Homo sapiens: one gene and its partner. The protein of the gene in region 1 purifies or fractionates together with the protein of each later gene. This does not show direct contact. Each region holds a gene or a part of one and is shown in the gene's direction. Other genes may lie near its edges.

What was found.
Region 2: the proteins of SPIDR (region 1) and TOP3A purify together in Homo sapiens (affinity purification with mass spectrometry; one study listed by BioGRID and IntAct). This does not show direct contact.

What each region holds. Positions count from the first base shown.
Region 1 is NC_000008.11:47,267,333-47,270,988, forward strand, and holds part of SPIDR (DNA repair-scaffolding protein), read left to right. Parts: intron 1-3,656. UniProt on the Homo sapiens protein: Plays a role in DNA double-strand break (DBS) repair via homologous recombination (HR).
Region 2 is NC_000017.11:18,308,412-18,312,067, reverse strand, and holds part of TOP3A (DNA topoisomerase 3-alpha), read left to right. Parts: intron 1-3,126; coding exon 3,127-3,186; intron 3,187-3,643; coding exon 3,644-3,656. UniProt on the Homo sapiens protein: Releases the supercoiling and torsional tension of DNA introduced during the DNA replication and transcription by transiently cleaving and rejoining one strand of the DNA duplex.

The sequences.
Region 1 (3,656 bases):
CATTTGTATATGCATTTTTATGTAGACCTAAGTTTTTCTTTCTCTAGCAGTGGAATTTTTGGGTCACATAATAACTGTATGTTTACATTTTGGATAACTGTTAGAATTTTCCAAAGTGGTTGCACCTTTTACAGTCTCACCAGCAAGGAATGAACATTCTAATTTTGCCACATTCTTGCTAACACTTGCCATTGCCTGTCTTTTACTTTTAGTCATCCTAATGGTTATGAAGTGTTACCTCACTGTGATTTGGTTTGCAGTTCCCTAATGAGATTGAGCATCTTTTCATGTACTTATTGGGCATTTCTGTATCTTCTTGAAGAAATGTTTATTCAGCTTATTTGGCTGCGTTTTCATTGGGTTATTTGCTGTTTTATTGTGGAATCACGAGTTCTTTAAAATTCTGTATACTGTTCCCCTATAAGATGTATGATTGCAGATATTTTCTCTCATTCTTTGGGTTTTCTTTTCATTTTCTTATTGAAGTACAAATGTTTTTAATAATTTTGATGAGGTCCAATTTGTTTTTTCTTTTGTTTCTTGTGCTTTTCGGTGTCATGTCTAATAAATCATTGCCTAAACCAAGGTCACAAAGATTTATTCCTATGTTTTCTTCCAAGAGTTACAGTTTTAGCTCTTACATTTAGGTCTGTGATTCATTTGGAGTTAATTTTTCTACACACTGTGAGGTAGGGGTACAACTTCATTCTTTTCGATGTGGATACCCAGTTGTTTCAACACTGTTTGTTGAAAAAATTGTTCTTTCTCCTTGAATTGTCTTGGCACTTTTTTGTTTTAATTGAAAATCAGTTGACCATAAAAGTAAAGGTTTGTTTCTGGTCTATGAATTCTATTCCACTGATCTCCATGTCTGCCTTTATTCTAGTACCATACTGTTTTAATTACTGTAACTTGGCAGTGTTGAAATTAGAAGTGTGAGTTTCTGACTTGTTTTCTGTTTTGAGATTTTTTTAACTGTTTTGGGTTCATTACATTTCCATATGAATAATAGCAGCTTGTCAATTTCTGCAGAAAGCCATCTGGGATTTTGATTTTGTTGAATATATAGACAAATTGGAGAGTATTATCATCTTAACAATATTATTTCCCATGAGCATGGGTTGTCTTTTCATTTATTTAGATCTTCTTTAATTTCTATCTATGTTTTACAGTTTTCAGTGAAAAAGTCCTGCACTTCTTTGGTTAAATTTATTCCTAAGAGTTTTATTCTTTTTGATGCTATTTTGAATGCAGTTCTACTGGCACATGCTGCTGCACGTGGCTAATATTTTTTGTTAATTTTTTGGTAGAGATGGAGTCTCGCTGTGTTGCCCAGGCTGGTCTCAAATTCCTGGGCTCAAGGGATGCTCCTGTTTTGGCCTCCCAAAGCTCTGGGATTATAGGCATGAGCCAGCCGCACCCAGCTCCATTGATTTTTTTAAATATTGAGATTGTATCCTGCAACTTTGCTGAACTCATTTATTGGTTCTAATAATTTTTTGGGTTTTCTGAAGTGTGGATTCCTTAGGATTTCCTGTGTACAAGGTCATGCAGCTAGGCATGGTGGCTCACACCAGTAATCCCAGCACTTTGGGAGGCTGAGGCGGGTGGATCACTTCAGCCTAGGAGTTCGAGACCAGCCTGGGCAACATGGTAAAACTGAGTCTCTACAAAAAACACAAAAATTAGCAGGATGTGGTGGCTCATGCCTGTGGTCCCAGCTACTCGGGAGGCTGAGGCAAGAGGATTGCTTGAGCCGAGGAGGTGGAAGCTTCAGTGAGCCATGATTGTGCTACTGCACTCCAGCCTGGGCAACAGAGTGAGACCCTCTCCTTTTTTTTTTTTTTTTTTTTTTTTAAAGGAGGTAGAAGCTTCAGTGATCCATGATCGTGCTACTGCACTCCAGCCTGGGCAACAGAGTGAGACCATCTTTTTTTCCCCCCAAGACAGAATCTTGCGCTGTCACCCAGGCTGGAGTGCAGTGGTACCATCTCAGCTCGCTGCAACCTCTGCCTCCTGGGTTCAAGCTATTCTTCTGCCTCAGCCTCCTGAGTAGTTGGGATTAGAGGCGTGTGCCACCATGCCTGGCTAATTTTTGTATTTTTAGTAGAAACGGGCTTTCACCATGTTGGCCGGGCTGGTATTGAACTCCTGACCTCATGATCCGCCCACCTTGGCCTCCCAAAGTTCTGGGATTACAGGCGTGAGCCACTACACCTGGCCAACCATGTCTCTTAAAAAAAAAAAAAAAAAGAAAGAAAACAAAATACCATGCTGTCTGTCAGTAGAGATGAATTTACTACTTCCAATTTAGACATCTTTTATTTCTTCTCCTTGCCATGGCTAGAACCTCCAGTCAAATATTGAATGTAAGTGGGAAGAGTTGACATCCTTTCTTTTTCCTTCTTTTAGGGATAAAGCATCCAGTATTTAACTATTCTGTATGATGTTAGCTGTGGGTTCTTTGTATATACATTTTTATCAGGTTGAGGAAATAACCTTCTATATCTAGTTTGTTGAGTTTTTACTGTGGAATAGTTGTTGGCCTTTGTCAGTTGCTTTTCCTACATCTAATTGAGACAATACTGTGGTTTTTATCCTTTATTTTGTTAATATATGACATTGATTGAATTTTCAATATTACATTAACTTTGTATTCCTGGGAAAAATCTCTCTTGGTTATGGTGTATAACTCTTTGTATATGTTGCTGGATTCAGTTTGCTAGTATTTTGTTGAGGATTTTTGCATCTATATTCATAAACAGTTTTGCTCTGTGCTTCGTTGTTATGTTTTGGTTTTATCAGGGTAATACTGGTTTCATGGTGTGAATTAGGAAGTATTTCCTCTTCTGTATTTTGGAAGAGTTTGTGAAGGATAGATACTGTTTCTTAAAATGTTTGGTATAAATCACCGTTGTACTCTGAGCCTCAGCTTTTCTTTGTAGGAAGTTTTAAAGTTATGACTCAATCTCTTTGTTTGTTACAGCTCTCTGATCAGTTTTTTATTTCTGAGTCGGTTTTGCTAGTTTGTCTTTCTCGGAATTTGTTCATTTTATTTTAGTTATTTAATTTGTTGGTATGTAGTTCATATTATTTCCTTATAATGTTCTCTGTAATCTTTTGGGTTTCTGCAAAATTGGTAGTGCTTCCTCACTTTCTTCTATTCCTGAGTTTTGTAGTTTAAATCTTCTCTTCCCCGCCCCCAAACCTCCTTGGTCAGCCTAGCTTGTCAATTTTGTTGATCTTTTTGAGGAACTAACTTTTTTTTTTATATTCTTTGTTGTTTTTCTATTCTCTCTGTCATTTATTTCTGCCAGATGGAAGTTTTATTGACTAAAGATTTTTCTTCTTTTTAAATGTAGTCATTTACAGCTACAGATTTCTCAGTAAGTACTGCTTTAGCTGCATCTATAGGTTTTAGTGTATATTGTTTTCATTCCTTTTAAAGTTATCTTCTAATTTTCTCATGATTTCTTTTTTTGATCTATTGGCTGTTTAGGAGTGTGTTTAATTTTTGCATACTTGTGAATTTTCATTTTATTTTTATTGTAAGGTTTAAATTTCATTCTATTATTGTCTAAGAACAGTATTACTATGATTTCACTCCTTTTAAATTTATCGAAGCTTGAGTTATGGCCTAACATGGTCTGTCGGAG
Region 2 (3,656 bases), on another chromosome or scaffold:
GGGACTATTTGACAAAGTGGGTGAGGCCCTTAGGCTAGATATCCAATGCCAAAATTATTAGGGCTTTTCTCAAATGGGATTTACCACCTTTTTGGCCTACTGCTGCTCCATGACAACAGGGGCCAGGGCCACTTCTTCCCCTTGGCCATCTTTCCTTTTGGCATCTGGGGCGGCTAGAGGAGAGAGGCTGCTGAAATGTCTCATCTTCAAGGAATCCTTCCCTCACCACCTGTTCCCCCACACTAGGTCAGAGACCCTTACTGACATGCTGTCATAGCACTCTATTCTACTTGAAAGGCATCTACTAGTTACAGTTAAATAATGGGATGTGCGATCATTTATTTGATTTTTGTCACTGCCTCTCCTTGGACTCTAAACTCCAAAGGACAGTGATTATATTTTGTTAATTGCTATGTCCTAACGCCTAATATGGTGTCTGGAATGCAGGAAACTTTCAATAAATATTAATACTTGGGCTGAGCGCAGCGGCTCATGCCTGTAATCCCAGCAGTTGGGGAGGCTCAAGCGGGCAGACCACCTGAGGTCGTGAGTTCAAGACCAGCCTGGCCAACATGGCAAAACCCCATCTCTACTAAAAATACAAAAATTAGCCAGGTGTGGTGGCGGGGTCCTGTAATCCCAGCTACTCACGAGGCTGAGGCAGGAGAATCGCTTCAACCCGGGAAGTGGAGCTTGCAGTGAGCCTAGATTGCGCCATTACATTACAGCCTGGGCGACAGAGTGAGACTCCATCTCAAAAAAAAATTAGGCCAGGCATGGTGGCTCATACCTGTAATCCCAGCACTCTGGGAGGCTGAGGTGGGCGGATCATGAGGTCAAGAGATTGAGACCATCCTGGCTAACACGGTGAAACCCTGTCTCTACTAAAAATACAAAAAATTAGCCGGGCATGCTGGCAGACGCCTGTAGTCCCAGCTACTCGGGAGGCTGAGGCAGCAGAATGGCATGAACCCGGGAGGTGGAGCTTGCAGTGAGCCGAGATTGTGCCACTGCACTCCAGCCTGGGCAACAGAGTGAGACTCTGTCTCAAAAAAAAAAAAAAAAATTCATAGTTGTTGAATGCATGTTTGAGCTGAGCCTGAAAGTTTTACCAGGCAGTAGAAACTGTAAAGAACAACCTAGTGGCTTGAAACTGCTTGGCATATTCAGAAACAGTGAGAAGTTAGGGGTGTGGTGTGGTGGGAAGAGACACCGATGAGTTAAGCAAGAGCAGCAGTTGAGTGCAGATCATAAGAATCTTAGAGAGCCATGTAGGTTGAGTGGTAAAATGCACAGAAAATTGACCATTTTAATCATTTTGAAGTATATAGTTCAGTGGAATTTTGTCCACTAAATGTGCCACCATCATCATTATCTAGTTCCAGAAGGTTTTTTTTCACCCCAAGAGGAAGCCTCATATCCATTAAGCAGTCACTCCCCTTACCCTCTCCTCAGCCCCTCACAACCACGAATCTGCCTTCTTTCCCCATGGATTTGCCTGTTCTGGGCATTTCCTATAAGTGGACCCATATCTTACATGCTCTTTTGTGTCAGGTTTCTTTCACTTAACATAATCTTGAAGTCCATCCATGTTGTACCATGTATTAATATCAGTTCTTCATTCCTTTTTTTTGGTTTTTGAGAAGGAGTCTCTCTCACTGTCGCTCAGGCTGGAGTGCAGTGATGAGATCTCGGCTCATTGTAACCACCGCCTCCCAGGTTCAAGCGATTCTCCTGCCTCAGCCTCCCAAGTAGCTGGGATTACAGGCACCCACCACCACGCCCAGCTAATTTTTTGTATTTTTAGTAGAGACAGGGTTTCACTATGTTGGCCAGGCTGGTCTCAAACTCCTGACCTCATGATCCGCCCACCTCAGCCTCCCAAAGTGCTGGAATTACAGGCATGAGCCATTGCACCTGGCCTCTTCATTCCTTTTTATGGCTGAATAATATTCTATCATATGGATAGATCATATTTCATTTTACCATACATCAGTTGATGGACATTTGGGTTGTTTTCATCTTTTGACTATTGTGAATAGAACTTCTATAGACATTCGCTGGGCGTGGTGGCTCACACCTGTAATCCCAGCACTTTGGGAGGCCGAGGCAGGTGGATCACGAGGTCAGGAGATTGAGAACATTCTGGCTAACACGGTGAAACCCCATCTCTACTAAAAATACAAAAAAATTAGCCGGGCGTGGTGGCAGGTGCCTGTAGTCCCAGCTACTCGGGAGGCTGAGGCAGGAGAATGGTGTGAACCCGGGAGGTGGAGCTTGCAGTGAGCCGAGATCACGCCACTGGACTCCAGCCTGGGCGACAGAGCCAGACTCCATCTCAAAAAAAAAAAAAAAAAAGAACTTCTATAGACTTTCATGTACAAGTTTTTGTTTGAATGTGTTTTTTTGTTTGTTTTTTGTTTTTTGAGACAGTCTCGCTCTGTCACCCAGGCTAGAGTGCAGTGGCGCCATCTCCACTCACTGCAACGTCCACCTCCTGGGCTCAAGTGATTCTCCTGCCTCAGCCTCCCCAAGTAACTGGGATTACAGGCACACACCACCACACCTGGCCAATTGTTGTATTTTTAGTAGAGATGGGGTTTCACCATGTTGGCCAGGCTGGTCTCGGACTCCTGACCTAAAGTGATCCAACTGTCTCAGCCTCCCAAAGTGTATTTGAATGCGTTTTTAATTCTTTTGGGTAAATTTGTAGGAGTGGAATTGCTGTGACATGTGATAACTCTGTAACTTTTTGAGGAAACACCAACATTTTCCAGAGTGGCCAAAGCATTTTACATTTCCACTGACAATGTCCAATTTCTCCACATCCTCAACAACACTTGTTATTTTACTTGTTTTTTTTATTATTCTATTTAATTATTATCCTAATGGGTATGGAGTGGTACCTCATCATGGTTTTGATTTGTGTTTTCCTAATGATTAATAACATTGAGCATCTTTTCATATGCTTGTTGGCCATTTCTTATCTTCTTTGGAGCAATGTTGGTTATATTTTTGGTATCATAACCAAGAAATCATTGCCAAATTCAGGATCAGAAAGAATTATACAAAGGAATCCATTGTTTTAAACGTAATTTATATTTTTTACTTATTTTTGTTTTATAGAGAGAAGGACTTTCAAAATTCAACAAGATCTATGAATTTGATTATCATCTGTATGGCCAGGTAGGTGCTAAAATATTTCTAAAATATTTCAATCATAAGCAAGAGAAAGTAGTCAGCCTCGTCATATGTAGAATATGTCGCTGTCTTAAGAATAACAACTGTTAACAACCTAAAGGTTCCTGGATATGGGGTGATCACTTTATAATTTATGAGGAGTTCTCTTTTTAATAAAATATGGTCCCATCTCAGCTCTTCATTACAAAAAAAAAAAGCTAATATACAATAGTTTGAGGAAAATTTAACTGATGCAAGAGGCGTCAGTTATACACCATATCATTAGAATGGTGATTGTATTCCTGTGACTTTTGGCTTTGAAGAGCTTATATTTATGTTTATTTCTTCCCAATCAGGTTTTTAAAAATGTCTTTAATAGAAGCTCCTCCCTCTCATTTTAATGATTTGGCAGAATAATAACTGCAAAAAGACTAACTGAATTTTGAATTTTGTCATCATTCAGAATGTTACCATGG